Linked DNA regions of Homo sapiens. The protein of the gene in region 2 interacts with the protein of the main gene of each other region in a pairwise test. Each region holds a gene or a part of one and is shown on either strand. Other genes may lie near its edges. The genes, in order: ASXL1 and ZNF317.

What was found.
Region 1: the proteins of ZNF317 (region 2) and ASXL1 interact in a two-hybrid assay, tested with the Homo sapiens proteins (one large-scale study listed by BioGRID).

Annotation. Positions count from the first base shown.
Region 1 is NC_000020.11:32,424,053-32,427,870, reverse strand, and holds part of ASXL1 (polycomb group protein ASXL1), read right to left. Parts: intron 1-3,818.
Region 2 is NC_000019.10:9,153,840-9,157,657, reverse strand, and holds part of ZNF317 (zinc finger protein 317), read right to left. Parts: intron 1,734-3,818; 5' UTR 1,642-1,733; coding exon 1,617-1,641; intron 1,047-1,616; coding exon 910-1,046; exon of another isoform or gene 391-909; coding exon 264-390; intron 1-263. UniProt on the Homo sapiens protein: May function as a transcription factor. May play an important role in erythroid maturation and lymphoid proliferation.

The DNA.
Region 1 (3,818 bases), on a different chromosome or scaffold from region 2:
GGAGGGTGGAGTGCTAAGGAGCAGGAATCAAGGCCCTGCTCTCAAGGAGCTCAAATAAGTAGGGGGGTCAATTAAACTGATTACAATACAAAGTACAGTACATAGGTGAACATGGAGAGCCGTGGCAGCCCAGAAGAGGGGCACCTAACTTCAATGAGTTGAGCGAAAGACGGCATGGAGGTGAATAACGATCAGGGAAGTAACACATCCAAAAGGATGTGTTGCTTAAGCTGGGTTTTAAAATAAATTAGCAACTAGACAGACAGGTTGGCAGTAGAGAGATTGTAGGAAGTTTCTAGATAGTGGGATGAGCAAATGTGAAAGAATATTCCAAACTCAGGGAAACTAGGGCTGTGGGGAACTCAATATGCAGGAAGCTAGAGAGGGCACGAGGGCAGATGGTAAGACCCATGTGGAGGGATCAAGAATTTGATTGTTCCGGAGTCACTGAAGAATATTAACTACAGGAATGATTTGAGTTTTCGGAATTTCATCTGGCAACCGCGGGAAGCCTAGAGGCAGGAAGAAGAGGTAGACACTATGAAAGATGTCCAACAAAAAATGCCAAAGATCTAAACCAAAGATTGTGGCTACAGGGCTAGAGTGTAGAGGAGAACTCCATCCCAAATTTCACCTCCTAAGAAAAGCTTCTTCCAATAGACTCACGACATGTAGACTCAGAATTAAACTCTACCCATTCCCAAGAAGAACTTGGGAGTTATCTCACACCTCAAAACTACAAAGAGTGTGGATGAGAATACTGGCAGTTGGAGACAAGAAGAAGATAAGTTGGGGCAGAGGAGGAGAATGTCTTCTTTGAATAAAAGTATGTGAAAAAGAGTTGATAAAGTCATGATTCTGCTAAAAAGGCACCATAAATTTAAAACAGGTGCCCACAACAATCTAACTCATCAATTTCATGAGTCTCTTGATCCACTACATTGAAGTTTCATCAATTTATTTTCATTAGTTTTAGCCAAAATCATGTATCTTAAATTAATAAAAAAGAGGCCAGGTGCAGTGGCTCACTCACACCTGTAATCCCAGCACTTTGGGAGGCTGAGGCAGGTGGATCACGAGGTCAGGAGATTGAGACCATCCTGGCCAACACGGTGAAACCCTGTTTCTACTAAAATACAAAAAATTAGCCAGGTGTGGTGGCACGCGCCTGTAGTACCAGCTACTCGGGAGGCTAAGGCAGGGGAATCACTTGAACCCAGGAGGTGGAGGATGCAGTGAGCTGAGATTACGCCACTGCACTCCAGCCTGGCGACAGAGCAAGACTCCATCTCAAAAAAAAAAAAAAAAAAAAAAAAGAAAGAAAAAAAAGAAAACAGTTTTCTACATCTTTACCTCTTTTCCTTACTGGCCATACATGGTCTTCAGAATCAAAAGCTAAATAATATTTTTAGTTATGCTTATTGACTGCCATGTTCTTGGTATAATAAAACAAATTTAATCTCTCTTCTCTCATGGGCAAACTAAGATAAAATACTCCTTAATGAATTAAGAAAGTCTATTACACTGGCAAAGTTACCCCAAATCTCCAGTTCTGACAAGAGTATGAGAAAATCATACATACACCCTTGATGAAAGTAAAAATGGCATAAAAAGGTTCACATGCTGCCAACGGAAAACTATTAGCCAAAACCTAAAAAATATATATGTATCTTTTATCCCAATACGAGATTTACACAGGACATGAAAAATATTGATTCTTACAAAGGAGAAAACAAATCAATTAAACTACATTAAAATTAAGACCTCCTATTCATCAAAAAACATTATTACCTACAGAGCTGAAAAAGATATCTGCAACTTACATAACCAATAAAGAACTTGTATTTAGACTACATTTATAAATCAGGCCGGGCATGGTGGCTTGCACCTGTAATCCCAGTACTTTGGGAGGCCAAGGCGGATGGATCACTTGAGGTCAGGGGTTCAAGACAAGCCTGGTCAACATGGTGAAACCCTGTCTCTACTAAAAATACAAAAATTAGCTGGGCGTGGTGGCGCACACCTGCAGTCCCAGCTACTTGGGAGGCTGAGGCAGGAGAATCACTTGAACGAAGGAGGCAGAGGTTAGTGAGCCAAGATTGTGCCACTGTACTCCAGCCTGGGTGACAGAGCCAGACTCCTTCTTGGGGGCGGGGAGAGAGGGGGAACAAATATAAATCAATGGGCAAAAGGCAACTCAGAAGAAAAATAAAAGATGTGAATTAGGCACTGCACAAGAGGATACTGAAGTAGCCAAAACATATAAAAGGGTATTTAATCTCACTAACAATAAGGAAAATGCAAAATAATGCAAATTAAAACCGCAATGAGATACTACCACATCCATCAGAATGGCTACAATTAAAGTTTGACAATATCAAGTAGTGTTAATTAGGAGTAGAACAAGTACACTGAAAACAGATCCAAGCATTTGAGAATACAATTTGGCCTTATCTGGTACAGTTGAAGATACAAACATCCTCTGACCCAGCAACGTCCCTCCTAGGCTTGGATTCCTTAGAGAAGTACATGCACATCTACACAAATCACAACCCACATGTTCATGATGCAGCATTTGAAATCTGGATTATAAACAATCAAAGTGGCTGCCAAAGGCAGAATCAAATTGTAGTACATTCAATAAATGGATGATTATACAGCAACAAAAAATGAATGAACTATAGCTACTAACGACATAGATGAATATTAAAAACAAAATAGTGAATGAAAGCCAGATACAAAATAATGCATAGTTGATGATTCCGTTTGTGAAAAGTTCAAAATAAGCTCAACTAAACTACAGCATTAGGAATGCAAAGACGGGTAGGTAATCTAAAGGAAAGCAAGAAAATAACTTTCATAAAGTCAAGACAGAAGTTACCTTCAGCTGGAAGAATGGGGCTGTGACTGGGAAGGGGCAGTGGGGGGTAGGGGAGGTGCGCCTGGCTGCTGGCCATATTTGATGTCGTGATCTAAGTGGCAGTTACAGGGTGTTCACTTTATAATAATTCCTTAAGCTGAACATTTGTGTCCTATGCATTCACTGTATTACATTCCCACAATTATAAAAGTTTAAAAACAAAAAATTTTAAGGTATTTCCTTCAAGGAACACTACCACAGATAGCCATTTAAAAGAAAGCTGTACAGCATTTAATGACAAGAGAAACGATGATACACAAGCTTAATTAGGCAATTAAATTCATACAGTATGATTCTATCATCTTTTTTAAAAAATGAAAATTTGAATGTGTTTGCATAGAAAAATGCAAGAGAAATTCTTACTAAGCTGTTGGCCACCACCATCTCTAGGTGGCAGTTTTTTTGTTTGTTTTTTGAGACAAGAGTCTCGCTCTGTCACCCAGGATGGAGTGCAGCGGCATGATCTCGGCTCACTGCAACCTCCTCCTCCTGGGTTCAAGCGATTTTCCTGCCTCAGCCTCCCGAGCAGCTGGGATTACAGGTGGCTGCCACCACGCCCAGCTAATTTTTGTAGTTTTAGTAGATATGGGGTTTCACCATGTTGGCCAGGATGGTCTTGAAATCCTGACCTCAGGTGATCCACCCACCTCAGCCTCCCAAAGTACTGGGATTACAGGTGTGAGCCACCGTACCTAGCCTAGGTGGTAGAGTTTTAGTAAGTGCTTTATATTCTTTTCAATTGTGGGTATTTTCTACTATTAACATGTATTGTTTTCTGTGATCAAGAAAATAACAATGAAAAAGAAAAATTAGGTGTTAAATGCTTTACCAAGAGCTAAATCAAAATTTCCTTCCTCTAGGTCCTAGAGTCTGGGGAAACCAAGTACTGTTTACAAAT
Region 2 (3,818 bases):
ACCCACACACTGACCCTCCAAAAGAATGGGGATTTCGTATTTCAGAAGCCCATGCCAAGCTCAGACACACACCGGAGAACCACCATGGTCCCTGCAATAGATGGGCCTCGATACCCAGGAGAGGCCCCATTAAGCATGGGTGCTGGGGCTGCTTGTTCACAGCTGCGTTCTGAACCGCTGCATAGTTCCTGGGTCACAGAACATACTCAAACAAAAACATCTAATTCATGGATGAATAAGTGGAGAAATGGCACTGGCCTTACCCAGTGAAGTGAGGTTGCTGTAGTTCTCCAGCATTACATCTTTGTACAGTTTTCTCTGAGAAGAATCCAGCAAGGGCCACTCCTTCTCGGTAAAGTCCACAGCGACATCTTGGAAAGTCACCGATTCCTGGAACGCCACACAAACTTGGGGTCAGCGAGGAACCAGCCTAACGATGTTCATGGTAAGATGGCTGAGGTTGAAGACCGGGCATGAGAGACCCAACACAGGATTTCCAGATGGCCTGCTACGGGGCTCAACATTTCCTCCAGGCATCAGTCCTCAGACATCCTCTCTCCCCATTGAGGCCATCTTGTCCTGTGCCGTCACTTCAGATGCAACCCTGACAAGGGACTAATCTCCCTCCAGTTCTAGCCCACTCCGAGAGCTTTGCCCTTTATTTCCCCCCGTCTCTGGGGCTGAGCAAGGGCCTGAGATTTTGCAAGCATGAGGGAAACAGATGCTACATAAATCACTTCCCCTAACTTCCCCAACACCAGGACAGCCCCAATATTCCTTGGCTCTCTCTTGGGCCCTGTTCTGGCATCCACTGGCTGAGATGAAGCTCTGCAAGAATTCCAGCATGCACTGGTGGGGTCTTCCAGGAAGTGCCTCTCCTGCTCTAGGGACCCAGAGATCTTAGTGCACCTGGGAACCAACACTGGGTGTGTGAGGCTCCAGACCACTGCACACGAACAGGTCCAAATTCTGGGGACAGGAATGGTCTTTTGAAGAAACAGGAAATTCTGAGTCCTGGAGACAGGTGGAATCCTGGGTGGACGTGGCTGGAGGAGAAAACAGGGTTCATGAGAATCAGAGCCTGCCCTGTCTCATAATACAACACTTGTAAACCAGGAAACTGCTCCACACTGATTCTGAGTGTTCACATCCTCAATCCTCTCTCTCTCTTCCTCCCCCCACCTCTCTTGCACACATCAGTTTCATAACAAGTCAGAGCAGCCCTGTTCCACCAAAAACATAAAGAGGGTGGTGGGCTACATACTCATAAGAAGTGACATAGTTCCAACCTAGGAGTGAAGAAATGCAAGTTCTGAGAGCTAGAGTTGTGACCTTGCTGAAAGTGATCAAAATAATAAATGAGATAACTCAGGGTTACCCATTACCTGCACCCTCTTCATGCATGAATGATAAGGACACTGGCCTGCTCCCAGACCCACCAAGACCCTCAGCAGACACAGTCACTGGGGTGGCTGCTGGGGCTCTGTTCCCACCCCTTTTCCACTTGCCCATCCTCTCCCAGCAGCCCTCTATGGTGTACGTATCTTTCACCCCATCAAGTGGCAGGGGCCACTTGCACTCACTTTCTCAGGGCACGCACTGACCCAAGAACTTACCAAATGTGGGGGACAGAGCTGCCATCCTCAGAGAATGGCAGTCAGTTTGCCTGAGCAGGGCACCAGGACAACCAGAAAGCTACTCTCTTGCTCTCACGTGACTCTCCAAGCTGGCATCTGTAGCAAATGAAAGAACATCGGGAGTAGTGAAAGGCTATCTGTCTCTCCTGCTCACCAAAGAAAACTCTGAGTTTTGTTTTTTGGCATTTCCTCTTTTGAGCAGCAAGATCTGCCTGATCCTGGACTTTTATCTTACTTAGGTAAACTCTCTCAGCAATGTGGTGATGTGGTGGGGGGACAGCCCCTGATCTGCTATAAGTGGGTTCAGAATTACTCTTCCTAAGTGATTTTCCACCAAGTACAACTCTGTTAAACCCCCTCACTCATTAAACACTCTGGTCCTAGACTTCTGCTCTTCCTTCACCTTCGAGGCCTGCGATCATTTAGGATGGCTCTATCCATGAAGATGGTCCACCCAGGATCAACCATGAGTTCCAAACTCCAATGCCCTTTGCACCCACACTCCACACCAACATATACACCCTTGGGCCATGGCCTGGACTGCATCATCACTAGAATCAGCCTCACCTCACAGGCAATGATTTGGAAATCTGCTCTCTGGGCAAAGTCTCCTGTGCAACCTTCTCACATCAACTCTCACTTTAGAGATTCGCGGCCACCTATGCTTCTGCCACCTCCTCCACTCACTGAATTTGAATTTAAACATCTTTTGAGATGAATCAGAAACTTAAAAATTCATAGAGAACAGCTGCAGTGAGCTACCATCATGCACTCCAGCCTGGGCAATAGAGTAAGATTCTGTCTCTAAAAACAAAAAAAGAAAAAGAAAAAAGGAAAATGAACAGTGAACCACGGATTGGGAAAAAAATATCTGCAATGCATACACCTGAAAAAGAATTCGTATTCAGATTAAAGAACTCCTAGATAGGAGTGCAAAAGGCTTATTGGAAAAAATAAAAAGAACTCCTTCAAAACAGAAAGAAAGAAAGAAAATCAACCCAACAAAAAGGGTAAAAGACTTTAATTAATAAACAGACATTTCACAAAACCAGTAAGAATCACATCGAATGGTGTTGAATATCATAGTCATTAGAGAAATGCAAATTAAAACTAGAACAGCCAAAATAAAAAAGACTACCAATACTAAATGCTGCTGAGTTTGGGGCACACTGGCACCTCTCATATCCTGATGGTAGGAGTGTGAAATAGTTCAACTACTTTGGAAAACACTTTGGCAGTTTTTAACAAGCACACTGACTATCTGATCCAACAATTCTGCTCCTAGATATTTATATAAGAGAAACTGTAAACAATTTATATCCACAAAGACTCGTACAAAAATGTCTGTAGTAGTCTGATTCCTAATAGCCAAATACTGTAAACAATCTAAACATCTATCAACCAGAGAATGGATATACAAATTGCAATGTTTACAGAATGGAATACTACTCAGCAATAAAAAGAAACTATGCAGACACACTACATGGAGAAATCCCTACGATGCTGGCCAAAAGAAACTGGACACACAAGAAACGCTCTGATTCCAACAATATAATGTCCATGAATAGGCAAAACGTAATTAAGTTGATAGAATTGAAAAAAAAAAGGGGGTTTCTTCAATGGAGGATAAGACAGGGATAGACTGAAAGAAGCAAAGGGAACTTTCTAGGATGATAGAAACTTACCTATTTTCAGATGTACAGTGTACACAATTGTCAAAAATTCAAACTGATCACCTAAGTAAGACCTATGCATTTTCTTGAACATATATTAAACCCTGCTTAAAAGAAAGAAAAAAAATGAGGCTTTCTTACCTTCTTGCTTCTAGTTATTTAAACAGTCTTCTCACAACTGATCTATGACCTCCTCCTTTCCTTCTATGACAAAGAGATGTCTGCCCTCCCTTCTCAAGGCAATCCTTTCAAATCTGCTCCAGGCCCATCCCCGTCTCTGGACCCTCGCACTACCTGGCTCTCCTTTACTTTCAGCCTCATTTCTCGCCCTGCTAGACAATTTCCTATGCATGGACACATGCTCAGGTCTATCCCATCTTGAAACCAATGCCTGCCCTGGCTCCCCTTAGTGCCCCCTTCCGAGCAAAAACTTAGGAGCAGTCTACATTCACCATCTCCCAATTCAGTACACCCAGCATCCACTACCATCATCCCCATCCTCACAGAA